Homo sapiens: one gene and its partners. The protein of the gene in region 7 purifies or fractionates together with the protein of the main gene of each other region. This does not show direct contact. Each region holds a gene or a part of one and is shown on either strand. Other genes may lie near its edges.

Region 1 (3,500 bases), on a different chromosome or scaffold from region 7:
ACCTGAAAGATTTTTTTTAAATTTGGAAGATACCAAAAAGAGCAGGTGTTTTTTGTGTCTCAAAATATTCCTAACTCTGCATTATTATTTGCTTACATAAAAACTAAGATGGTTGAGGCCTAGAAAGGAGCCACTTACTTTTTCTCTCTTTTCTATAATATAGAGGAGGTGGGAGTTTCCCTAATACAGAGGAGTTTGGAGCAGGAGAGTCAGATTTTTACTCCGAGGGTAAGGGGAAGTAGAGGGAAATAAAATGAATTGTCCAGTATTTTTCATTACTCACTTTTTAAAAAATGTATTCTGCAGATACTTTGGTTAGTGACCACATCGCAGCATGTTGAGTCAAGTTTACCGCTGTGGGTTCCAGCCCTTCAACCAACATCTTCTGCCCTGGGTCAAGTGTACAACCGTCTTCAGATCTCGTATGTACCATAGAAAACTTATGAGTATGTGGGACGTTTGATAGTCAAAGTATGTTTCAACAAGGTTTTCAAAGAGAAAAAAGATGTTTGTTTGTTTGTTTGGAGACAGGGTCTCATTTTGTCACACAGGCTGGAGTGCAGTGGCACAAACATAGCTCCATGCAGTCCAGACCTCTTGGACTCAAGCAATCCTCCTGCCTCAGCCCACCAAGTACTTGGGACTACAGGCACACACCACCGCGCTGACTCTAACTTTTTTATTTTTTGTCGAGATGCGATTTTGCCATGTTGCCCAGGCTGGTCTTGAACTCTTGAGATCAAGCAATCTGCCTGCCTTGGCCTCCCAAAGTGCTGGGATTACAGGCGTGAGCCATCGTGCCCAGCCAAGAAAAAAGGTTTAAAAGAGAGAGAGAGAAAAAAAAGATGTAATTTGGCAGAATTGGACAAAATTCTGCCAAATAGCAAGGAGGCAAAGAGGTAGTCTCCTGGTGAAATGTTCTCAGTGTTTGTGTCAATAAAGTTGACCCCCAAATAAATTTTTACATGCTTTTTTTTTTTCTTGAGTCTCACTCTGTCTCCCAGGTTGGAGTGCAGTGGTGTAATCTCAGCTCACTGCAACCTCTGCTTCCCAGGTTCAAGCGATTCTCCTGCCTCAGCCTCCCAGTTAGCTGGGATTACAGGTGTGCATCACCATACCCAGCTAATTTTGTATTTTTAGTAGAAATAGGGTTTCGCCATGTTGGCCAGGCTGGTCTCGAACTCCTGACCTCAGGTGATCTGCCCGCCTCGGCCTCCCTCCCAAAGTGTTGGGATTACAGGCGTTAGCCACTGTGCCCGGCCCCATGCTATTTTTGTTCATTACTCTTTTTTTGTAATTAAGTTTTAGATTTTGAGCTAATTATAAATTCACTTGCAATTTTAAGAAATAGTACAAAAAGGTCCCTTATACCCTTTACCCAATTTCACCCAGTATCTGAACCAAGGTATTGACGTTGATACGATCAAGATACAGAACATTTCAATCACCACAGGATTTTTTATTTCTCTTTAACAGCCACTGTCCTCTTCCCTATTACTAACCCCTGGCCAACATTAATCTGGTCTACATTTTTATAATTTTGTCCTTATAAAAATGTTATATAAATGGAATTATCCAGTATGTAACCTTTTGGAATTCTGTTTTCTTCAGCATAATTCTCTGGAGATTCATTCAAGTTGCTGTGTGTATCAGTTAGTTCCTTTTTATTACTGAGAAGTATGTAATGCTATGAGTGTATCACAGTTAGTGTAACCATTCACCCATTAAAGGACATCTGGGTTGTTCTCATTTTTTGGCTGTTATGAATAAGGCTGGTATGAACATTGATGTACAGGATTTTGTGTGAACATAGTTTTCATTTCTGTGGGATAAATGCCTAAGAGTGTAGTTGCTGGGTCAGATTGTAGCTACATGTTTAGTTTTTTACATAGTTTGAATGTATGTCCCTACCAAATCTCATATTGAATTGTAATCCCCAGTGTTGGAGGTGGGGCCTGTGGGAGGTGTTTGAGTCATGGGGGTGAATCCCTCATGCCTTGGTGCTGTCCTTGAGATAGTGAGTGACTTCTCACAAGATCTGGTTAAGTGTGTGGCACCACCCCCTCACTCTCTCTTCTTGTTCCCTCTCTCGCCATTGGAGATGCCTGCTTCCCCTTTGCCTTCTGCCATGATTATAAGCTTCCTGAGGCCTCACCAGAAGCTGAGCAGATGCCAGCACCATGCTTCCTGTACAGCCCACAGAACTATGAGCCAGTTAAACCTCTTTTCTTTATAAATTACCTAGCCTCAGGTATTTCTTTACAGCAATGCAAGAATGGCCTAACACAGTTTTATAAGAAACTGTCAAACTGTCTTTGCAGAGTGACAGTACCATTTTACATTCCTACTAGCACTGTATGAGTGATGCACTTTCTCTGCATCTTTACCGTCATTTGATGTGGTCACTCTTTTTTATTTTAGCCATTTTGATAGGTATGTAGTGATAATCACATTGTGGCTTTAATGTGCCTTTCCCTAATAGCTAATGATATTGAACATCTTTTCATGTGTTTATATCCTCTTCAGTGAAATGTTAGTTCATGTCTTTAGCTCATTCTTTTTGTTTTTTTTTGTTTTTTGAGATGGAGTCTTGCCCTGTCACCCAGGCTGGAGTGTAGTGGCGCAATCTCAGCTCACTGCAACCTCTGCCTCCCGGGTTCAAGCGATTCTCCTGCCTCAGTTCCTGAGTAGCTGGGATTACAGGTGCCCACCACCATGCCCAGCCAGTTTTTGTATTTTTAGTAGAAACAGGGTTTTACCATGTTGGCCAGGCTGGTGTCAAACTCCTGACCTCAAGTGATCCCCCCACCTCAGCCTCCCAAAGTCCTGGGATTATAGGCATGAGCCTCCACACCTGGCCTTCAGCTCAGTTTGAATTGGAAAGTTGTTTTTTTTTTAAACTATTGAATTTTGAGAATTCTCTATATCTTCCTGTCTTAGTCCATTTTTATTGCTATAAAGGAATATCTGAGGCTGGGTAATGTATAAAGAAAAGAGGTTTATTTGTCATGGTTCTGCAGGCTGCACAAAAAGCATGGCACCAAAAACTGCATTGGGTGAATGCCTCAGGCTGCTTCTGCTCTTGGAAGAGGATGAAGGGGAGCTGTTGTGTGCAAAATCAGATGGCCAGAGAGGAAGCAAGAGAGAGAAAAGAAAGGGCCAGGCTCTTTTTAACAACCATGTCTCATGGGAACTAAGAGTGAGGACTCATGCATTCCCTCTGAGACTGGCACCAGGCTGTTCATCAGGGATCTGCCCCCGTAATTCAAACACTTCCTACCAGGCCCCACCTCCAACACTGGGGATCAGATTTCAACCTGAGACTTGGAAGGGCCAAACCATATCCAAACCATAGCACTTCCAGGTATTAGTCCTTTGTTGGATAGGTGGTTTGCAAATGTTTTCTCCCAGTCTCATAGCTTGTCATTTTATTCTCTTAAGAGGGTCTTTCATATAGGAAAAGTTTTTCTTTTGATGACGTCAAATTTATCAGCTTTTGT
Region 2 (3,500 bases), on a different chromosome or scaffold from region 7:
CCAGCACTTTGGGAGGCCAAGGCAGGCAGATCACGAGGTCAGGAGATCGAGACCAGCCTGGCTAACACGGTGAAACCCCATCTCTACTAAAAATACAAAAAATTAGCTGGGCGTGGTGGCAGGTGCCTGTAGTCCCAGCTACTTGGGAGGCTGAGGCAGGAGAATGGCATGAACCTGGGAGGCGGAGCTTGCAGTGAGCCGAGATCCCGCCACTGCACTCCAGCCTGGGTGACAGAGCGAGACTTCGTCTCAAAAAAAAAAAAAAACAAAAACTATAAATATCTGCTTGTATGTCATACTCTGTGTGTATACATGTTATATACACTTAGACACATGTATACACATATACAGAAATATTGATATTTTATTTACAAAATGTGAGTAGCTTATATTGTTTTATAACTTGCTTTTCCATAATAATGTATTTTGTGGACATCATTCCATACCAACAAATGCAGGTCAATATATTTTTTTTTAATGACTGCAAAGCATTCATCACTGAGGGTCTATATGCCCTGTAGTATACATTGAAATTTCATAATTTCAATGGGAGACAGAACTATTTGTAGTACAGAAAGCTGTTTCACATCAACCAATGAGTAGATAAATAAAATGTGTTATACATGGTAGCTTATGCCTGTAATCCCAGCACTTTGGGAGGCCGAGGTGGGTGGATCATTTGGGTCAGGAGTTTGAGATCAGCCTGGCCAACATGGTGAAATCCCGCCTCTACAAAAAAATACAAAAATTAGCCGGGCATGGTGGCGGGTGCCTGTAGTCCCAGCTATTCAGGAGGCTAAGGCAAGAGAATTGCTTGAACCCGGGAGGCGGAGGTTGCAGTGAGCCGAGACTGCACCACTGCACTCCAGCCTGGGTGACAGAGAGACTCTCAAAAAAAAAAAAAAAGATATATATATATATATATATATATAAAATACAGACACCATGGAATACTACTCAGACATAAAAAGGAACAAAATAATGTCTTTTGTAGCAACTTGGATGGAACTGGAGGCCATTATTCTAAGTGAAGTAACTCAGGAAAAGAAAACCAAATACTGTATGTTCTCACTTATAAGTGGGAGCTAAGCTATGAGGATGCAAAAACATACAGAGCAATATAATGAACTCTAGGGATGCAGGGGTGAAGGATAAAAGAAAACATACTGGGTACAATGTACACTGCTTGGGTGATGGGTGCACTAAAATCTCAGAATTCACTTCTAAAGTATTCATCCATGTAACGAAAAACTACCTGTACCCCAAAAACTATTGAAATAAAACATAAAATAAATAAATAAGAAAGAAAGAAAACTGTTTCACAGCCTGGGCAGCATGATGATAACCTGTCTTTATGAAAAAAACAAAAAATTAGCTGGGTGTGGTGGTGTGCGCCTAGCCACTCAGGAGGTTGAGGTGGGAGGACTGGTCGAGCCCAGGAAGTTGAGGCTGTAGTGACCTGTGATTGTGCCACTGCACTCCAGCCTTCGTGACAGAGACCCTGAAAAAAGAAAAAAAAAAGGAAGGAAGAAAGGAAGCAAGCTAGCTGTTTCAAATAGAGGAAAACACATACAAGTATGTATGGATTTAGGAGCACTTTAGAGCCAAGGTTTCATAAGTATTTCTTAATCTGTGTAGTAACATGCCATATTATAATAGAATTGGAATGTATTTGTTAAAAGATGTCATACGGCAAAACTCCATTTCCATTCTCTGGATGTCAACAGGAATGTAGTCTAAGTAATAGGAAGCTAAACTTAGGAATGTTAGCATTTTCCAAATCACCCATGAATTGCATCCCAAAAGTTTAATTATAAGTTGGTTTGGCGGCTGGGCGTGGTGGCTCATGCTTATAATCCCAGCACTTTGGGAGGCCGAGGCAGGTGCGTCACCAGAGGTCAGGAGTTCGAGACCAGCCTGGCCAACATGGCGAAACCCCCGTCTCTACTAAAAATACAAAAATTAGCCGGGCATGGCGGCGGATGCTTGTAATTCCCACTACTCAAGAGGCTGAGGCAGGAGAATCACTTGAATTTGGGTGGCAGAGGTTGCAGTGGGCCAAGATCACACCACTGCATTCCAGCCTGGGCAACAGAGCAAGACTCCGTCTCGATTTAAAAAAAAAAAGAAAAGTTGGTTTGGCAAAACTGAGCAGACATTTTCCTGCAGAAGCTATACAAGATAGCAAGGATCTCAGGGCAGTTGGCAAAAGTTTAAAGTACTTAACTCATGATGTATAACAGCCCCTCCCCTGCCTGGCTATTACATTTTTGAAAAACCACTAAGGTAACAAAATTCTCAGTGGAGGAGTCTAGGGCCTTACAGTCACAAGTGAACAAAAGTACTTCTAAGTTTTTTTTATATTTGTTAAAAATAAGTAAATGGCCAGGTGCGGTGGTTCATGCCTGTAATCCCAGCACTGTGGGAGGCTGAGGCAGGCGGATCACTTGAAGTCAGAAGTTCAAGAGAGACCAGCCTGGCCAACATGGCAAAACCCCGTGTCTACTTAAAAATACAAAAATTAGCCAGGCGTGGTGGTGGGCACCTGTGGTCCCAGCTACTCGGGAGGCTGAGGCAGGAGAATCACTTCAACCCGGGAGGCAGAGGTTGCAGTGAGCCAAGATCGCACCACTGCACTTCACCCTGTGCTACAGGGCGAGACTCTGTCTCAAAAAAAAAAGAAAGAAAATATGCCCTCTTACTTGCTGTATTAGTCTGTTCTCACACTGCTATGAAGAAATTCCTGAGACTGGGTAATTTATAAAGAAAAGGGGTTTAATTGACTCACAGTTCTGCATGGCTCGGGAGGCCTCAGGAAATGTATAATCATGGCAGAAGGCACCTCTTCACAGGGTGGCAGGAGAGAGAATGAGTGCAAGCAGGAGAAAATGCCAGACGCTTATAAAACTATCAGATCTCCTGAGACTCACTCATTATCACAAGAACAGAATGGGGGAAACTATCCCCATGATCCAATTACCTCTACCTGGTCCTGCCCTTGACACATGGGGATTATTACAATTCAAGCTGAGATTTCCTTGTTCCTCTTCATATTCACTGGGATCTTGCTTCGTGGCCCGAGCTAGACCTGGGATTCCAGTGAAGCGAGGGCTGGGAGTGAGACTGAGATAGGAGAGAGTTCCTGGGGCCCCAGGGTAGGGATTCTGTACTCTGAGGAAGGGATTTCCTGCCAGCACTAATACTTGGGAGTATTTTAGTCCCTTAAAGGCCCTTGTTACCTTCTCTCTTGGTTCCAAGAGGCTGATCTGTCTTTTCCTCTTTCCAATGTCACTACTCATAGTTTCTACCCAACCCTCCTTAGACCATGATGGAAGAGAACAAATCTTAACAGCCTCTCAATTCTGTATACTTTTAATGAGCTTAACTTTGAGCCAGGTACTGTGCTTATAAAGACAGAAAGATACATAAGACAAAGCTTCTGTTCAACAAGAATTAATAATCTAGTAAGGAGCAGAAATGGTGAGAGGAGCTAGGTAACT
Region 3 (3,500 bases), on a different chromosome or scaffold from region 7:
CTCCGCCTCCCAGATTCAAGCAATTCTCCTGCCTCAGCCTCCCGAGTAGCTGGGATTACAGACGCGTGCCACCATGCCCAGCTAATTTTTTGTCTTTTTAGTAGAGATGGGGTTTCACCATGTTGGTCAGGCGGGTCTTGAACTCCTGACCTCAAATGATCCTCCCGCCTCGGCCTCCCAAAGTGCTGGGATTATAGGCATGAGCCTCCTCACCTGGCCGCCCATCTACTTTTTAAAAAAATTTATTGTAGAGATAGGGCCTTGCTATGTTGCCCAGGCTGGTCTTGAACTCCTGGCCTCAAGCGATCCTCCCGCCGTAGCTTCCTTTAGTGCCAGGATTACAGGCATAAGCCCCTGCGCCTGGCCTGCCACAGATTTTTATCATTGGTAGGATCATCATTCCCATTTTACAGGTGAGCAAACTGAGGCTTGGAGTGGCAAAGGCACACAACCAAGGTCCCACAGCAGGATAAAGAGCAGAACTAGGCTTAGAAGCCAGGTTTCTGTGATGCCACAGCTGAGACTCTGCCCTCAGGGGTCTTACGAGTGTCCCCACCTTAACATTCATCCAGGTTTCGAGTTCTTTGAAGCCAGTGCCAAGGAGAACATCAATGTGAAGCAGGTCTTCGAGCGCCTGGTGGATGTCATCTGCGAGAAGATGAACGAGTCCCTGGAACCCAGCTCCAGCTCAGGCAGCAACGGGAAAGGCCCGGCCGTGGGGGATGCTCCAGCCCCCCAGCCCAGCAGCTGCAGCTGCTAGAGATGGCCCCCAACCCCCCACCCACCCCTCTCCTGCCTCGGCAGGGACTGTGATCGAGGCGTGAGCCACAGTGGTTATCTCCAAGCTCAGGGCAATCCCTTCCCTCCTGTCAACTGCTCCCCGACTCCTGCATGGCTCATTCCTTCACAATGTCGCCGTGGCTGCCAGGTTCCTCAGGCAGCCCCGGTGGGAGGCTGCGGACCATGGGGACTCAGCTCTGCATGGCAGGCAGAGGCCCAGGGACACTGACGTGCATGAGCTTGCTGCTTTCCAGGGTGTGTTGAGGGTGGCCATGGGTGACACGTCCCACTCTTTCTGATGGAGGGGCATCCGTGGTGCCTTCTAGCTTAGAACCATTTTCCAGGTCTCTTCTGGGTTGGGCAGGACTGATATTCCCAAGCTGGTGGAAGATGGTTCATCTTCCTCGCACAGTGTGGGTTCTTGGAGTTCATCCAGGGAAGGCGGCGCCTCTTTCTCAGGTCCTGCAGGCTGGTCTCTGAGCCTGCCCCCACGAACTTTCTGGATTCCAAGGTGGGATGGTGATCCCTTTGACCCCTGCAGACCCTCTACTTGCGAAAAGCAGCATTGAAGCAGCCTTTTCCCATTGTAGAAGGGACAGGGAGTCAGATCCCCTCAACCCCCCGGCTTCAGGGACCCCAGAAGTGCCTTCCAAGCTTCCCCCAAGATCCACATCACCCACGACCCTGCCACTGTTTTTGCTGTGTTCACCACATCTCTGATCCTGAAGTGAATTCTGGAACTATGGACCACATTAGACTGGGCAGAGATTCGCCCAACCCCTAGCACTCCGGCTCTGGGCTTTCGGCCAGAAGTTAATTAACCTCAGAGCCAGGAGCCTGGGGCTGGGGCCTCCCTCCCAGGCCCTGTTTAGCTGTTTAGCTGGTTGTGTTTTAAGCAAGTTCTTGCCCAATCATGCATCCTGCTAGAAAAGGAAATGAAGCAACGTTCCCAGCCACCGCAGGCAGTTGTCGGCGACTTTCTGATGTAAGCACCTGGGCTCCGACTTGAGGGGGGCCCTTCAAGACCCAATGTCCATTTCCCAATCCTTGTCATCGGCAGGGCCCAGGGATGTGACAATTTTTGCTAATGGAGGAGTCACTTCTTTTTTTTTTTTTTTCTTTTTGAGATGGTCTGGCTCTGTCACCCAGGCTGGAGTGCAGTGGTGCAATCATAGCTCACCACAGCCTCAAACTAGGGGTCACTTCTAAGGGATGCTGGGGGTTGGGCGGAAGGGGTGAGGAGGTAGGATTGAGTAACTTGCTGTCACTGCTTGTACTTTGTAGACAGCCTGAGAGTGGCAGGACCTTATGTGAATGGGGGGGATGGACTGTGATCAGTGCCGGGGAGTCTCTGAAGCTGGGGTCCCCACCTCCAGGGGCTTCTGCTCAGAGGTTACGTGTGCAGTTTGAAGATGTACATCTTGACCTCCGGTTTAGAGGCACTTTCTGCCCATCAGATTCCAAACTCTAGGGGCGCAGCACCTTTTCTTTGCTCCCAAACACCAACCAACACCCCTTCACAGGACCAGCACTGTTAGGATGGCTAAGTGGATGTTTTATGTTCCCACGTCCCTGACTCTGTTTCAGAGGTTGTGTCTGCTCTCCCAGCCCCTGAAGCCAAAATGACTTCCTGCAGCTTTCATGAGCTCAGCCTCTTCCCTGGGGTATGTGTGAGGGGGAAAGCCTGGTTCAAGTTTAGATTTATTTCTAGGGAGCCCTGGTTTCTTCATACCAGAGGCTACCCTTAGAACTTTGGAGTGGGGTATCTTTTTTTCATTTGTTTTTTTGATACAGAGTCTCGCTCTATTGCCCAGGCTGGAGTGCGGTGGCACAATCTCAGCTTACTGCAACCTCCACCTCCAGGGTTCAAGCGATTCTCCTGCCTCAGCCTCCCGAGTAGCTGGCATTACAGGCACCTGCCACCACACCCGGCTAAATTTTGTATTTTTAGTAGAGAAGGGGTTTCACCATGTTGGTGAGGCTTGTCTCAAACTGACTTCAAGTGATCCACTTGCTTCGGCCTCCCAAAGTGCTGGGATTACAGGCGTGAGCCATCACGCCCAGCCGAGGGTATCTTTTATACCAACAAATTAGATGACTGAGGTGTAATGGACAAATCCTATGCACAAAGTGAGGGTATCTGAATATGTGGGCGGGAGTCAAAAATTTTTAGCTACTTTAACACTAAAGTCAAACTAAAGTAGCTTCAAAAAGACTTCTCAAGATGCAGTATGGCCTGCTGAGGTTTTTTTGTTTTTTTTTTTTTTAAGACAGAGAGTCGCTCGTCGCCCAGGCCGCAGTGCAGTAGCATGATCTCAGCTCACTGCAACCTCCACCTCCCGGGTTCAAGCGATTCTCCTGTCTCAGCCTCCTAAGTAGCTGGGACTACAGGCACCTGCCACCACGCCCATCTAAGTTTTGCATTTTTAGTAGCGACGGTTTCACCTTGTTGGCCAGGCTGGTTTTGTTGGCCAATTGTCTCTAAACTGCTGTCAAAAAAAGGAATGGATCAGATTGTCTTGAATAGGGCAGAGCTAACCTGTAATCACCTGTGTGATGAGAAACAGCTTTGACTGCATTTTACTCCTGACCTGGCCTAAGCTTTCTGTTTACATAAGATTTTTCAAGAATTCAACTTCAAGTAGCAGCCGAGAGAGCTGCCTCAGGATTCTCTCAAAAACTGGGAATAATATGGGAACATTTGTTTCTTCTAAAAATAA
Region 4 (4,141 bases), on a different chromosome or scaffold from region 7:
GGCCTCCAAAGCGCTAGGGTTACAGGCTTGAGCCATCTTGCCCGGCTGTCTTTCACTGCTTTTATACTGCAAACAGTTTTCACAACAGAGATGCTCAGTTGCTCCACACCCAGTCCTTCAGGGGAGTTATGCTTGCATATGAGCTCAAGGAACATCAAAATCGTTTTTTGAAACAAGAGCATCCTGGAAGATGAAGCAAGCTGCACCTCTGCCTTCATTAGTGAAAATGCCCTGTGCCAATATCTTTATGTCAAATGAATAAAAAGTACTCTTGGCCGGGCGCTGTGGCTCACGCCTGTAATCCCAGCACTTTGGGAGGGAGGCCGAGACGGGCGTATCACGAGGTCAGGAGATCGAGACTATCCTGGCTAACACGGGGAACCCCGTCTCTACTGAAAATACAAAAAATTAGCCGGGCGCAGTGGCGGGCGCCTGTAGTCCCAGCTACTCGGGAGGCTGAGGCAGGAGAATGGCGTGAACCCGGGAGGCGGAGCTTGCCGTGAGCCGAGATCGCGCCACTGCAGTCCAGCCTCGGCGACTGAGCGAGACTCCGTCTCAAAAAAAAAAAAAAAAAAAAAGTACTCTTATGTGACCAGGAGTGCAATCCCCGGTTCACTTCCTGCAGTGGCTCAGGGCTGGATTTACACTGCCCTCGTTGGGTGGCTGTCCATGGACTTCCAGGCCTGAAAGAAGGAAATTCACATCCTCACTGAGTCGTGTTAAGAGTCTCAGACTGGCAGGTTGTGGTGGTTAAGACCGTAGAAGCTAGAGTCAGGCCCCCTGGGTTCCAACCCTGCTCTGCCACGTACCAGACAGGCAAACCTGAGCAACCATTTTCCCGTGCTAGGGTTTCCTCGCCTGTCGAGTGAGAATAATAATAATAACAATACCTACCTCCTAGGGTTGCTGTGAGAAATAAATGACAATCCACAGAAAGCGCCTGCAACGGCGCCTGGCTGGCAAACAGCGGACTTGTTAATTACAGCCTTTCAACTAAGGGCGCCTGAAACTCGCAAACATTTTGCTCGGGTGTGGATTCGCTCCCGTTAGTTACAAACTTGGGATCCCGGGACCCGGAAAGCAAGGGGGAAAAATAAATCGCGATGGGGCCAAGGGACAGCTGCTGCGGCAACTTTTACCCAGCGGAGCCCACCTACAGCCTCAGCCTCCGGGTCTCAGGTCTCCGCCGTTTCTTCTCAAGGAGTCGGTCGGGGGAGCGGCACTGCACAGCTTTTCTCCAATCAGACACCTCAAGGCTGGCGCCTGATCCAATCTCCTCCCCTGGAGGGTGGGAACGCGAAGTTCCTACCTGCACCTGTGGCAGCGGTGACCGCCTCCTGGGTTATTTTCTTTTCTCCCCCAGCTGCCCCAGGGTTCTGGTTTCCCGAATCACTTGGCAAATAACCAGCAGGTGGGCAGATGTCTTTTTTGCGTTCCTACGGACGCGTAGGCAAGTTCGATGCGCCGGAGTGAACAGCCAGGGTCCCATCTCTCAGCCGGCTCCCGGGCGGTGCTAGCAGGGAAGAGGGACGCGCCGGCGAATGAAACACTACTAGCCCGGAAAGCCGCCCTGGACCTTCCACCCGGGCAGCGAGTCTGGCGGCCCCTCGCCGCCGCCCCCTCCGACCAGAACAGACTGCGCTGCGAGCCCCGGGCTTCCGCCGCAGCGCGCAGCAATTGGAGGTGCCAGAGGAGACCAGCAGCAGCACTTGATTTAGCTGGGCTGCGGGAATTCCGACCTGTACACTTTCCAGAAGCCTGATCTCTCCAAGTCCGCGCCCAGGGACTCGAGCCCCGGCTTCCAGGTTGACCCGAGCGCGCCCCCTTCGTGCTCTCGGCCGCGTTCACCGCGCGAGGCCTCCGGGTCCTGTTAAGCCCGAGCAGGTGAGCGACTGGGGGTGGTTCGGCGTCCGCCGAGACAGAGCCTGGCCCCGGGGGTCACCCTGGGGTGCTGCCTGGTACCTCCCAGGTACCCGCCTCCCGGAGCCCTAAGAGAGGCTGAAAACCACGGACGCTCCAGGACTCCGTTTTCTGTACTTTTGAGTAATTTGCCATCTTTTCCTTGCGCAATTCGTACAAAGCCCTTCCGTGCTCACAAAGTTGATGATTGTGAAGAAGAAAATGTAGGTTAGAGGAGAGGAAGCAGCATCAGGACACCTTACCACCACTGTTAGTAAATGACTTGGGGGTACGGGTTGCTTTTCCGATCTGCAAAGTAGGAGGGAATGGGATGTTTGCAGACGCAGTTGCTAATTGTGCCTGAGGGCGTGGGTGCCTTTTGTACCGAAAGAACTTTTGGCCGTTTTTTCTTGTATTGTTTTCAAGTCGCTGCCCGAGTGTGTCCTCAGGGCATCCTGGGGAGGAGCCGGTGTTGCGGTTTCGGGGCGCAGCCGAGGCCGCCCCGCCGCCTCCCGTAGGCGATCAGACTTCCTCTCCCTGGCGGTTCCGGGAGGAGAACCTCCTACAACAAACACCGCCGAAGTTTCCCTCTCCAGCGCGATCGCCAATCCCAGGAGCGCCCGGCGCGTGGGCTGGGAAGGAGCCGAGCGGAAACCTGGAAGTGAGCCGCGGCGCAGGCGAATCCTGCCGTTGCTGGTGGCAGCGCCCAAGAGACCCCGCACAGAAAGTGGGCTGGGAGTCTCGCTTGCTGTACCCGCACCTAAGTGCTCAGAAGCGGCCTTTCGCTCTGCAGAGGGGGGGTCTTAGAAGCTTGGGGAAGAAGCACATTGTTTCGGAGTTCCTTGTTGCGTTCTTTCTCCTTGGGAGGAGGGAATTGCACAAGGAAAAGAAGAGAAGCCTTTACTTTGTAACTGAAATTCTCCAGAGTTGAGTTGCGTCGTACAGACTCGGTGCATATTTTAATACAAAACTAAGGGAAGAGGCCATTTGATACTTGGCTTCATCTCAACCGTCAGCCGGGGGTGACTTCAAACAGACGCAAGATTGGGCTCTGGGGAGTAAAAGGAAGAATTAGGATGGCGGTTTTCAAGGGAAGTTAAGTCTAGACATGCTTCTTTGAAAGTCACAAGGCAGAAGTGGTCAAAAGTAGAATTTAAAAGAACCAAAACAAATATCATAAGCTTGTCCTTCTCTCCTACTGGGATATAAATTCTCCTAAGTATCTCATCGAAAAGGCTCCTGGGACGAAAGTCGATGGGGGCAAATCTTGGAGGGAAATTTCGTGACTGTTTGACCATGGACTAATTAATACCGTTCACCTGTAGAGAGGATGCACTTGGTTCCCAGCGCCCTCCTCCCAGGTGCTTATCCAAAGGGAGGCCGCCCTGGGTCGGATGGGTCACCTTTTGGCGTCCATCTACAGTCAAGCAGTGTGGACAGGGCGGTCATTTTCCCTCTAGAGACGGGTTGATTCAGAGGGGTGGGAACGTCCCTTGGGTCCCCCGGGCACGCTGACCACTGCACTGCACTTCCCCTGAAGGAAAGGCAAAGGTTGAAGCCAAAGAGTTCAAGGCTCAGCCTAGAGACCAGGTGATGGTGCCCTGGAAGACACTTCCGCCAGCACCCTATGGGGCGCAGTGGCGTCTAATGCTAATGTGGGCTACGTAGCTACGGGATTGGGTCGCTCCGACCCTGGCCGATCCGGTGCCAGACAGCATAAGGGAGGAAAGGGGACTGGGGGGGGCACGTGACTTCAACCAACCCAGTAACCAAGTTTTGTTTTCTTCCCCAGCACAGGCCGCTGCCTCAGCATCCACCCCGCAGCCCACGTGTGGCAAGCCGGGGAAGGGGTGGAGTGAACGGCCGGAGACCACGTGGAGAAAGGGGCCGCTTTGGCCCTTCCATCTGGGTGCCGGGAGCCCCTAGGCCCTCCGGCCATGGCCGACAGCGGCGATGCTGGCAGCTCCGGCCCCTGGTGGAAATCGCTCACCAACAGCAGAAAGAAAAGCAAGGAAGCCGCAGTGGGGGTGCCGCCTCCCGCCCAGCCCGCTCCCGGGGAGCCCACGCCACCTGCGCCGCCCAGCCCGGACTGGACCAGCAGCTCCCGGGAGAACCAGCACCCCAATCTCCTCGGGGGCGCCGGCGAGCCCCCCAAACCAGACAAGTTATACGGGGACAAATCCGGCAGCAGCCGCCGCAATTTGAAGATCTCGCGCTCCGGCCGCTTTAAGGAGAAGAGGAA
Region 5 (3,500 bases), on a different chromosome or scaffold from region 7:
TAACTAAGGACAACTGAAAAAAAAACAACTCTCTTTTTTCATAGCTGGTAGGAATGTTGCCTAAAAGTGGAAAAGTATGTTCATGATCAATTAGATAAATACATTATTAAGGAAAAATTGCCTGAGGGTTATTTCAGATGACCTCTGATGCCACTGTCAGAAAGAAAATGCTGAGAGCTGTTAGTCTGAGTTGATTCTAGATTAGTATGGCACTTCTTATGTTTCTAAATAGTTCATCTACAAAATGGCAGTGTACATCACTTCCTGTTCTTTCACAACTGGCTCTTTCACTGGATTCTCTTTTAATGACTTAATTTTTGGCATTCTGATATCTGATTTGTTAATTTGGTTATAATTCTCATGTTTTATAGGTGGAAGAATTTCTGAGAATCAGCTGGATTTAAAGGCTTTTAATAGTTTAAGATTATCTTGACAGTAACAAAACATTGCTTCCAAACTAAAGGATAGTATTGCAAACAAATTTAAACTCTGAGAGGTTTTAAAGAAGTACAGCAATGTACAGAATCAGAAGTATGAGGGCACTGAATAGAAAATAATTATCGTATTTTTTATAATGTCGATTTTGGGAGAAGTGAGGATATGGCAAGTAATTGAATGGGTGTTGATATAAAATAAACTTTCTGTATAACAAGGTGTATACATGATATTTGGGCCCATGTTACGATGCCATTTTAACAGTAAGAAAGCAACTCTTTAGTTACAGGATACTAGAAAGACTGGATGCTCATAACTAACCATGAGTATGATTTATTTTAATAATTTGCCAGTTTTTTTTTTTTTTTTTTTTTTTTTTTTTTTTTGAGACGGAGTCTTGCTCTGTCGCCCAGGCTGGAGTGCAGTGGCACGATCTCGGCTCACTGCAAGTTCCACCTCCTGGGTTTACGCCAGTCTCCTGCCTCAGCCTCCTGAGTAGCTGGGACTACAGGCGCCTGCCACCAAGCCCAGCTAATTTTTTGTATTTTTAGTAGAGACGGGGTTTCACTGTGTTAGCCAGGATGGTCTCGATCTCCTGACCTTGTGATCTGCCCGCCTCAGCCTCCCAGAGTGCTGGGATTACAGGCTTGAGCCACCGTGCCCGGCAAATTTGCCAGTTCTTAATAGACATGAATATTTAGTAAATCCAGAAGATATCTAGGGGTCAGTTGTTGGCATTGAAATTAGAGTTGAGATCAATCTGTCTTTCGTGTCTTTCACCTGGAAATAAAGTCTGTGTTTTGCATTTGGCTTATTTGTATATTAAAATCACTTAATTTTTCATTTGTATCTCTGTTTTGTTTTCACTAGTCTCTGTTACTTATAACAATTAATTGCACTCATACTAATTTAATCTTTTAGAAATGAGGAGCATTTTTGGTACATATTAGTTGAGGGTTGCTGTTTGGATGAGGATCATATGTGAACGAATCCCTTCAAAAAAGTGTTATTTCTGGGCTGGGCAAAGTGGCTCAGGCCTGTAATGCCAGCGCTTTGGGAGGCTGAGGTGGGAGGATTGCTTGAGGCCAGGAGTTCAAGAGCAGCCTGGGCAACATAGCATGACCCTGTCTCTACAAAAACAAATTTTTTTTTTAATTAGCATGGGCTAGGCATGGTGGTTTATGCCTATAATCCCAGCATGCTGGGGGCTGAGGCTGGAGGATCACTTGAGCCTAGGAGTTTGAGGCCAGCCTGGGCAACATAGTGAGACCCTGTCTCCAAAAGATAAAAAATGAAAATATTAGTGGGGCGTGATGGTGCGTGCTTGTTCTAACTACCTGGCAGGCTGAGGTGGGAGGATTGCTTGAGCCCAGAAGATGGAGGCTGCAGTGAGTTGTGATCATGCCACCGCACTCTAGCCTGGGTGACAGAGTGAGACTGTCTAAAAACAAAAGCCTGTGTGGTGGCTCAAGCCTGTAATTCCAGCACTTTGGGAGGCCAAGGTGGGCGGATCACCTGAGGTCAAGAGTTCGAAACCAGCCTGGCCAACAAAGAGAGACCCTGTCTCTACAAAAATAAAACAAATTAGCTAGGCATGGTGGTGGGTGCCTGTAACCCCAGCTACTGGGGAGGCTGAGGCAGGAGAATCACTTGAACCCAGGAGGTGGAGGTTACAGTGAGTTGAGATGGCGCCACTGCCTGACAGCCTGGGCGGCAGAACAAGACTCCATCTCAAAACAAAACGAAACAAATAAAAAAGTTTTATTTCTCTAGTAAAGTTTCGCATAAAATTGAGATGTTCATTAAGCAGAGTACCAACATATGCTCACCTGCCTTTAGGTATGTGTACTTTTTTTTTTTTTTTTTTTTTTGAATTTGAGACAGGGTTTTTGCTGTGTCGCCCAGGTTGGAATGCAATAGCGTGATCACAGCGTATTGCAGCCTCAGCCTCCCGGGTTCAAGTGCTCTTCCCACATCAACCTCCCAAGTAGCTGGCACTACAGGTACATGCCACCACGTCTGGCTAATTTTTTTTTTTTTTTTTTTTTTTTGTAGAGATGGGGTTTTGCCATGTTGCCCAGGCTGGTCTTGAACTCCTCAGCTCCAGCTATCTACCTGCCTTGGCCTCCCAAAGTGCTGAGATTACAGACATGAGCCACTGCACCCGGCCCGATTTCCGTACTTACTATTAATGGTTGGATTTTAAAAATTATTCTTCAGGTTTTCCTATTATAAAATATGAGAGGATACAACCTGTATTAGTTCATTCCATTCTTAAAGTATTTTAGTTTTTAGTAATAAAAATTGATGTTTAATTTCATTAAAGATGTCTCATACCTTCTAAAAATCTACATGAATTAAAAAGTTGTGTGGAGGGACTAGCAGCAATTATTTTCAGCTGGGACGTTTCTGTCATCATATGGTAACAGTTATTTCTGTATCAGTCTATTTGTGCCAGAAGCAGACTTTTTGTTCTAAAATACAGTCTAAGGCTATACCTTTTTGATGACAAAATTAAGTATCCTATAAAAGTTGGAAGAGTTTTTAAAATGTTAAGTACCTGGCATGTAAATAAAGTAAGTAAAAGTATAAATTATTAAGTGCCTTGCATAATAGATATACTGCAGCCTCCTAAAAATGCCAGTGACCGTTATGCTGTAGGTTGTTATTTAAATATAATGGCACTTAATTACCGTCTAATTTATCTTTAAAGCTGAGAAGGGGCTAATTTTTCCTTTTGATAAAATTATTTGATCAAATAGTTTTATGCAGGTTTAGAAGTAGATGAATTACTGTAACATTTAGAAAGACATTCAAAGTTTAGTTTCTGAGAAATATTATCAAATAATAGGATGGAACAAAACTTTCTGGTTTGCAGCTACCAATAATAAAATTGGCACTTACTATATATTAATGTTGGCTGGGCGTGGTGGCTCACGCCTGTAATCCTAGCACTTTGGGAGACCGTAGATCACTTTAGGTCAGGAGTTCAAGACCAGCCTGGCCAATGTGGAGGAAACCCGTCTCTACTAAAAATACAAAAAATTAGCTGGGCGTGGTGGCGT
Region 6 (4,144 bases), on a different chromosome or scaffold from region 7:
CCTTGAACTGCTTAGTCTTTCTAAGAATCAATTTCCTCACTGGCACAACACAGTACCACCACCACTTTCTTCAGAAGGTGGTGGTAAGGATTAAAGGAGAAAATGTATGCAAACAACTAGTTCTCATTATTGTTAGATTTTGGAGAAATTAGCCGCTGCTTCCCAGTCCCTGACTGCCTGTCTCGGGCGCACCCATGTTGCCAGTGTTTATTCCTGCAGATGGGCTGAGCACTAGGGCCAGCAGTAGCCCATCGGGTGACCTGGTGCGACTGAGAAAGGCGGGCCCTTCTTTTGGGCAGACCCGGGGCACATGGCTTCCTTGGTCAGGTGTCTGGCACAAACTGTACAACCATGCACAGTGACCTTGTTCCCAACTCTCCTTCCTCCAACACTAAACGACTTCTGTTCCTCAATGACCTGAGCCAGGCCTGGCACTCAGTTAAAAGAAGCCCTGTCTGAGCAAGGTGGCAGAGACGGGGGACCACCCTCTCTACATCCCTTCCCCCCTTTTTTTGAACAGGGTTTCACTCTGCCACCCAGGCTGGAGTATAGTGGTATGATCATAGCTCACCACAGCTTCACCTTACTGGGCTCAAGGGACCCTTCCACCTCAGCCTCCCAAGTAGCTGGGACTATAGGCATATGCCACCATGCCTGGCTATTTTAAATATTTTTTTGTAGAGACAGGGTCTCACTATGTTGCCCAGGCTGGAATCAAACTCCTGGCTTCAAGCGATCCTCCTGCCTCAGCCTTCCAAAGCATGGGGATTACAGGTGTGAACCACCGTGCCCGGCCTCCACCATTTTTTACAGTCAGGACATGAAATAGGAAAGGATGCTCTGTTTTCTTCCAGATGGGCCCTAGGTTGAACTTTCTGGTCCCTCTTCTCCACATGATGTCCTGCCTGGGCTCCCTGGCTCCTCTGCCATAGCTGGATCGTTAGTTCACCTTATGAAGCAACAAAAAGAGAGACCCACTGTGGCCTCTGCTACAGGCCAAGCAGAGGGCACAACCCAGGAGGAATGAAGTCAGTGTTCTGCTCGCTACCTGACTCCTGCGACAGAATCAACTGGCCCCTCAACAGGGGCTGAATCTGGAACAAAGCAGACGTCCCTTTATCCTACAATTTCTCAAACTTCTCATATCGAGCCTCTGTTTTCAGGAGGTTAAAACAAATTAATCATCAGTGAGAAGGCCAAAAAGACCCCACACAGGGACCCCAGAAAAACAAATGTCATCCAGCTGTGAACCATGAGGGCCCAATGACAGCTGACACGGCAGCCTGGACTGCGGTAAACAGAATGGCGAGACCAAACCTAAATGTTTCCCCTTGGAAAAATTAGCAGCAGCCACCTACAGAAGAATATTCCCCTCCATGCATCCAGGGGCCTGCTGACCTCTGCCCAGCCTTTCTACCTCATCTGTAACATTCAATCACATAGCCAGCCATCCTATGCACGCTGAGAGGTGACAGCGCCTCTGGGAATCAGATTAGAGAACACAATCGTTTGTGACCCTGCATCCCTGGGCCTGGCAGTTTCCTGACTGATCAGACCCTGGGCCCCTCAAGGCAGGGGCGCGAGCCACCACCACCGCCCTCCTCCGTGCAGTGCTGAATACATGCTACTGAAGGCTAAGGTATCGTCCTGCTGTGACGGCCTTCCCATTTTATAATTCAGTAGCGCACGAGGGCCATGGCTGCCTATAGCAAGAATGTGTGTGGTTTGATATTCACAGTTCCACTGTCCCAGAAAGTTTCCAGTTTGCTAGCTTGTAGCCATTTCCCCTATCTAGGTGCACTGGCCGTGATTTTACCCCACTCCATCTGGGGCGCGCCCGGCGCAGACAGGACTGCAGAGAAAAGGGACAGGGAGGGGACCTAGTCAGTCCCTACTATAACTGTTTCTCAAGACATTCTCCCCATGCATTTATTTGCTCTCCCGGGGAAAGAGCGAAGTGTGGGATGACTCATAGTGGCTAGATCGTTCCTCTAACTCCTCCCTTCTTTTGTGTGTGGTTTAAAAAAAAGAAAAACACACACGCAGCCCATAGCCACAACATCAACAAGACCAGAAGCCCCGCAGAGTTCGCAGGAGGTGGGCAGTGGCTGCGCCACCTGCTCGGCTTCCCCAAACTCCGAGCCCACGCCGGGAAGCGGCGGCTCGGTGGCCCCGGGCGCCCGGGCCGGTGGCCCCGCGCTCGCGCCGCTCCGCTCCGCAGCCGAGCGTGGAGTAGCAGGCGCTCGCGGCGCGGCGGGGGAGCCGCCGCGGAACCCAGGGCAGGCGGCCAAGCGGCCCGGCTGTGTCCAGCCATCGCCTGCGCCGCGGCCAGCTGGCGGCCAGGCGCGGGGCCCCGCGGCCAGATGGCCGCTCCGGGGACGCGCCGCAGGCGCCGGGTGCGCCCGGGCCGAGGGAGCGCCGGCGCGGCTGTGCAGGCAGGGGCTGGGGGCGGCGACCTCTGCCCGGGCGGAGAAGCTCAGGGGCCCGAGCGCGGCGGGCGGGGCGCGCAGCCTCCACGCCGCGCCCTTTGTCCCATGTGCGGCTCACACAGGGGCCCGCGTCCCCCGTGACCCCGGCCCGGGCCGCAGCTCAGGTCCCGGAACCAACTCCTCCAGCAGCGCCGCTCTGGCCCGGGCCGCCGTGCGGGGCTCGGGACACGGCGGCAGCGGGGAACCCGCGCCCGCTCCGCGTCCAACTCCGCTCGCCCCGCGGCGCGCTCGGCCCTGCAGGGGCCGCCCCGCGCGTTACCTGCAAGGAGCCTGAGCCCCGGCCGCATCTCCCTCCCGGGTGCGGAAACTCTGGCGGCTCCAGGCACCCGCCCGGACCTGGCAGGGGGAGGGGCCGCCCGCCGCGCACCCGACCCCCCCCGCGCCGCGCCTCCCGCAGCTCCCCACGCGCGCGGGCGCCCCCCAGCACCAGTCTCGGCCCGCCCCCTCCGCCCGACCATTGGCTGCTGCTCCCGTCACTTTCAGGCCACAGCCAAGTCCCTCCTCAGCTCATTGGCGGACGCGCCGGTGACGTCAGGCCAGGGGGCGCTAGTCGGCGGCGAAGGAGGCGCAGGGACAGACGGACCCGGCGGGAGAGGAGGAAGCCGGGTTGTGGGCGCGGAGCTGAGGCGGAGGCGGGGCCGGGGCGGGAAGGGGCGGCCCCAGCTGGGTCGGGCGAGGCTGGCTGCGGGAAACCGAGTGAGCCCTCGCTTTTCCTCCGGGGTCCGCGCGCGGGACCCTATTTCTGGCCTGTCTCGCGCTTCGCCTGCGCGGTGGTCTCCACGCTGGGACTGCGGCGTCCTCGCAGAACAGCCAGAACTCCACTTCTTCCTGTCCGGGAGGAGTTGTTTAAAACATGCGTATCTCCACCTTCTGCTTCTTAGAACAGAACTGACTGAAGCCGTGTTCTTCCCGCCGAGACCATGCCGCCCCATCGACCCTGCTGCGGCCAGAGCCACCCAGGGCGGGCCCACTCACCGCAGGCTCGGGCCACTTGGTTCCAAACCTCCACTCCCATCCAGGGGCCCGGCACACCCACCACACTCCCACTCTCAGAGGTCTTTGCCGCCTGCTTCAGGAGAAAAGAGAAACTTCCACTTTCCACCGGCAAAACTGCACACCTGCTCCCTCCATCACCGAGCCCCCCCCCCCACCTTCTGTTTTTCCAGTATCGCAGAATCCGATCCGTTGCTCCCTCTGGACTGGAATCCGTATCCTCGGCATTTCATCATTCCAAGATTCTCTACTCCACGTACCCTTGCTGCCACCCTCTTCTACTTTCCATCGCTGAAGTTGGTGAAAGAGGCGCCTGCCCCCAGTTTTGTGGTCTCTCAACTCCACGTGTTCGTTTTCACACTCGGTGAAATTGCCTTTTTAATTGTCGCAAGTAGCATCCACATCACTAAAGTCAAAGGACACTCTCCTTTCTCGTGTTAACTGATCTGAGCAAAATTCCTTCTTTCTCCTTAAAACACGTCTTCCTGTGGCGGGGGTGCTCCACTTTCCTGTCTGTCCCCAGTCTTGGCGTGCTTGTCTACTCTGGGTGACCACCAAATAACAGAGTTTTCAAGGTCTCAGACCTTTCCTCTTACTCCACAATTTTTCCCTGAATGATTTAACCTGCTGTCAACATTTAAATCAATATATCCCAAATTTGC
Region 7 (2,756 bases):
CCTTCTTTCTTTTCCTTGTGCTCCGCAGGTCCAGCCCAGGCTGGCAAAACTGAAGATTGTGAAGTTTATCTTGGCCCACCTGTCTCCTGCCCTCCGTAGGCCTCTGCCCTTCACCCCTGTTGCCCCACTATTATTTAACTGCAGTACTGTCTCCTCCATTAGATTAGGGCTTCTCCAGAGTAGAGACTGTCTTCCACCCTCCCACCTGTTAGACTGGGAGTGCCCCAGGGCAAGGGGCCCATCTTTGATTAGGGTCTCCACGCAAAGGACAGTTGATGCTGTAAGCTGGGTCTGAGCCCAGGCCCCAGCTGTTAGCGGGCTTGAGAGGTGCCTGGCCATTCCTCAGGGCTCTGTCCTGTGTGTCCTTCCCCAGCATCTCCCTGGAATCATTCCATCCTTGCCCTGGCAGCTGTGGTGGTCATTATAAGCATGGTCCTCCTGGGAAGAAGCATCCAGGCAAGCAGGTGAGGAGCTGGTCCTGGGGGGATGGGGTGGTCTCTGTGGGGTAGAGGCCCTGCCTTCCCAGAGGGAAATCTAGAGAGGGGTCACTTAGGGGTCATTGCTGTCCACCCTTTGGGACAGCAAAATTCAGCCTTCAGTGTCCTTCGAGAACCCCAAGCTGTTAAAAACAAACAAACAAACAAACAAAAAACAGCAACAGTCCCTGATTACCACCCCCTGGCCCTGGACAGGAAGCAGGCATGACCTGGAGGAGTGTAGCCATTCAGAAGGCGAGCTTGCCCCTCTCACCCTATCAGCACACATGCACCTCAGCAAAGTCAACTCAGAGATGAGTGGCTGTCCATGGGTACAGCAGACCTGTTCCCCCTACGACCCAGTCAGAATCTCTAGGCAGACAGCTTACCACCGCTGGGTCCCTCCACTATGGCCAGGAAGTCTAGGGGTACCTTGAATAAAACCAATCTGGAGAGAGGACAGACACATGGGAGTTATTAAGGAAGTGGGCAGTGGGAGCCAATGAAGGTGGTTGGGGGAGGGGAGTGATGTGTACACGATGGGGTTTTAGAAACATGACTGGTGTTGTGCCTAGGCTGGTTTGGAGAAGGAAACACCTAGAGGCAGAGAGATTAGTTAGAAATTTCCTGCAGTAGTGTGAGGGATGAGGTGTGTGGTGACAAGGACCTACGCTAAGTAGGATGACAGTCCAAGGTCAGAGACAGTGTGGTTAGGTGAAAAGAACACAGGATTCAAGAGTCAGGAGGCTTAAGTGCACACACTAGCTATGTGCATCCTTGGCTTTTTTTTTTTTTTTTTTTTTTTGAGACAGTCTCTCTATTGCCCAGGATGGAGTGCAGTGGCACAATCTCGGCTCACTGCAACCTCTGCCTCCCAGGTTCAAGTGATTCTCCTGCTTCAGCCTCCCAAATAGCTGCAATTACAGGCACAACCACACCCAGCTAATTTTTGTATTTTTAGTAGAGATGGGGTTTTGCCATGTTGGCCAGACTGGTCTCAAACACCTGGCCTCAAGTGATCCACCCGCCTCAGCCTCCCAAAGTGCTGGGATTACAGGTGTGAGCCACTGCACCTGGTCTCCTTGAAGCACATTTCCTCACTTGGAAGGTGCGGGGGTGGCAATGATACTTGAGCTCACAGGTGACAGTAAGGATTCCTTGAGATGACACACACTCAAGGGTAAGCCATTTCTCTGTTGAAGGAATATCCAACCATTGCCGCTTCTCCTCTAGTAGCTCCCAAACTGCATAGAGAATTTTCCCCTTAGACTCTTTAAGCCATTTGGGCGACCCAGTCCTGCCCCAACCACTCAGCCCCCCTCATTAACACTGTTCCCTGTCCCCCCAGAAAAGAAAAGATGCAGCCACCAGAAAAAGAAACTCCAGAAGTCCTGCATTTGGATGAGGCCAAGGATCACAACAGCCTAAACAACCTAAGAGAAACTTTGCTCTCAGAAAAGCCAAACTTGGCCCAGGTGGAACTTGAGTTAAAAGAGAGAGATGTGCTGTCAGTTTTCCTTCCGGATGTACCAGAAACTGAGAGCTAGTGAGGGTTCAGAGAAGCCCCATCCTAAGCCAGACACATGATGTGGGCTCAGCTCAGTGGCCTGAAACCTCTCAGGTTTTAGAGTCTCTCCCAAGAAGCCGCTTTTTTCTTTTTCTTTCTTTCTTTTTTTTTTTCTTAGCAGATACAATGAATGAACTGCAAGCAAACTAAAATTCTGTTATTAAAAAAAATCTTTTATTAAAATGCTCCTGGAAGGGAGCAGGTGGTATTGCATAGTTTGTTCAGATGGCAGTGGTACACACACACATACACACACAAGTGGCCTGGAGCAAAAGTGCAAAATCCGTAGCTGGCCTGTGGGTCGGGAAGCCTGTAGGACTGCAAGCATGTGGTCTTGAGTAGTTCACAGCCCCCCTCTGACCTCAGCTCCTCCATTTACAGAATGAGTCCGAAGACTGGGTCAGAGATGCTGTTTGCAATCCAACAGTAGTCCTGAGACGGCTGAGAGGGGAAGGAGCAGGCTTCCAGGCCCAGAATCCCCTTCCCAATCCTTCCACCCACCAGGACCCTCTCTTTTCCCTGCTTGTCTGCTAAGAGTCTGTGCAAGACTTCCCTGGGACCTGGCGTGTGGTAAACAAAATCAGACAACTACCACACTGCCTGCCTTGGACAGCCTTTTCTTGCTAACAGTGGGATCTCAAAGGTGTGTCCTGATCCCATGTCTGAGCCATGGTGTCTTGGTATAAGCTGCGGTGACACCACCAAATAACATA

Evidence for each region.
Region 1: the proteins of SLC51B (region 7) and ALDH18A1 purify together in Homo sapiens (affinity purification with mass spectrometry; one large-scale study listed by BioGRID and IntAct). This does not show direct contact.
Region 2: the proteins of SLC51B (region 7) and METAP1D purify together in Homo sapiens (affinity purification with mass spectrometry; one large-scale study listed by BioGRID and IntAct). This does not show direct contact.
Region 3: the proteins of SLC51B (region 7) and RAB3D purify together in Homo sapiens (affinity purification with mass spectrometry; one large-scale study listed by BioGRID and IntAct). This does not show direct contact.
Region 4: the proteins of SLC51B (region 7) and PRR15 purify together in Homo sapiens (affinity purification with mass spectrometry; one large-scale study listed by BioGRID and IntAct). This does not show direct contact.
Region 5: the proteins of SLC51B (region 7) and TAOK1 purify together in Homo sapiens (affinity purification with mass spectrometry; one large-scale study listed by BioGRID and IntAct). This does not show direct contact.
Region 6: the proteins of SLC51B (region 7) and TMTC4 purify together in Homo sapiens (affinity purification with mass spectrometry; one large-scale study listed by BioGRID and IntAct). This does not show direct contact.

The regions. Positions count from the first base shown.
Region 1 is NC_000010.11:95,650,212-95,653,711, reverse strand, and holds part of ALDH18A1 (delta-1-pyrroline-5-carboxylate synthase), read left to right. Parts: intron 1-306; 5' UTR 307-334; coding exon 335-422; intron 423-3,500. UniProt on the Homo sapiens protein: Bifunctional enzyme that converts glutamate to glutamate 5-semialdehyde, an intermediate in the biosynthesis of proline, ornithine and arginine.
Region 2 is NC_000002.12:172,002,953-172,006,452, reverse strand, and holds part of METAP1D (methionine aminopeptidase 1D, mitochondrial isoform 1 precursor), read right to left. Parts: intron 1-3,500. UniProt on the Homo sapiens protein: Removes the N-terminal methionine from nascent proteins. The N-terminal methionine is often cleaved when the second residue in the primary sequence is small and uncharged (Met-Ala-, Cys, Gly, Pro, Ser, Thr, or Val).
Region 3 is NC_000019.10:11,322,658-11,326,157, reverse strand, and holds part of RAB3D (ras-related protein Rab-3D), read left to right. Parts: intron 1-572; coding exon 573-760; 3' UTR 761-3,500. UniProt on the Homo sapiens protein: The small GTPases Rab are key regulators of intracellular membrane trafficking, from the formation of transport vesicles to their fusion with membranes.
Region 4 is NC_000007.14:29,562,494-29,566,634, forward strand, and holds the start of PRR15 (proline-rich protein 15), read left to right. Parts: upstream 1-1,341; 5' UTR 1,342-1,884; exon of another isoform or gene 1,885-2,169; intron 2,170-3,039; exon of another isoform or gene 3,040-3,260; intron 3,261-3,691; 5' UTR 3,692-3,836; coding exon 3,837-4,141.
Region 5 is NC_000017.11:29,393,363-29,396,862, forward strand, and holds part of TAOK1 (serine/threonine-protein kinase TAO1), read left to right. Parts: intron 1-3,500. UniProt on the Homo sapiens protein: Serine/threonine-protein kinase involved in various processes such as p38/MAPK14 stress-activated MAPK cascade, DNA damage response and regulation of cytoskeleton stability. Phosphorylates MAP2K3, MAP2K6 and MARK2.
Region 6 is NC_000013.11:100,671,996-100,676,139, forward strand, and holds the start of TMTC4 (protein O-mannosyl-transferase TMTC4), read right to left. Parts: upstream 2,801-4,144; 5' UTR 2,749-2,800; intron 1-2,748. UniProt on the Homo sapiens protein: Transfers mannosyl residues to the hydroxyl group of serine or threonine residues.
Region 7 is NC_000015.10:65,051,142-65,053,897, forward strand, and holds the end of SLC51B (organic solute transporter subunit beta), read left to right. Parts: exon of another isoform or gene 1-373; coding exon 374-464; exon of another isoform or gene 465-848; coding exon of another isoform or gene 849-924; intron 925-1,824; coding exon 1,825-2,023; 3' UTR 2,024-2,256; downstream 2,257-2,756.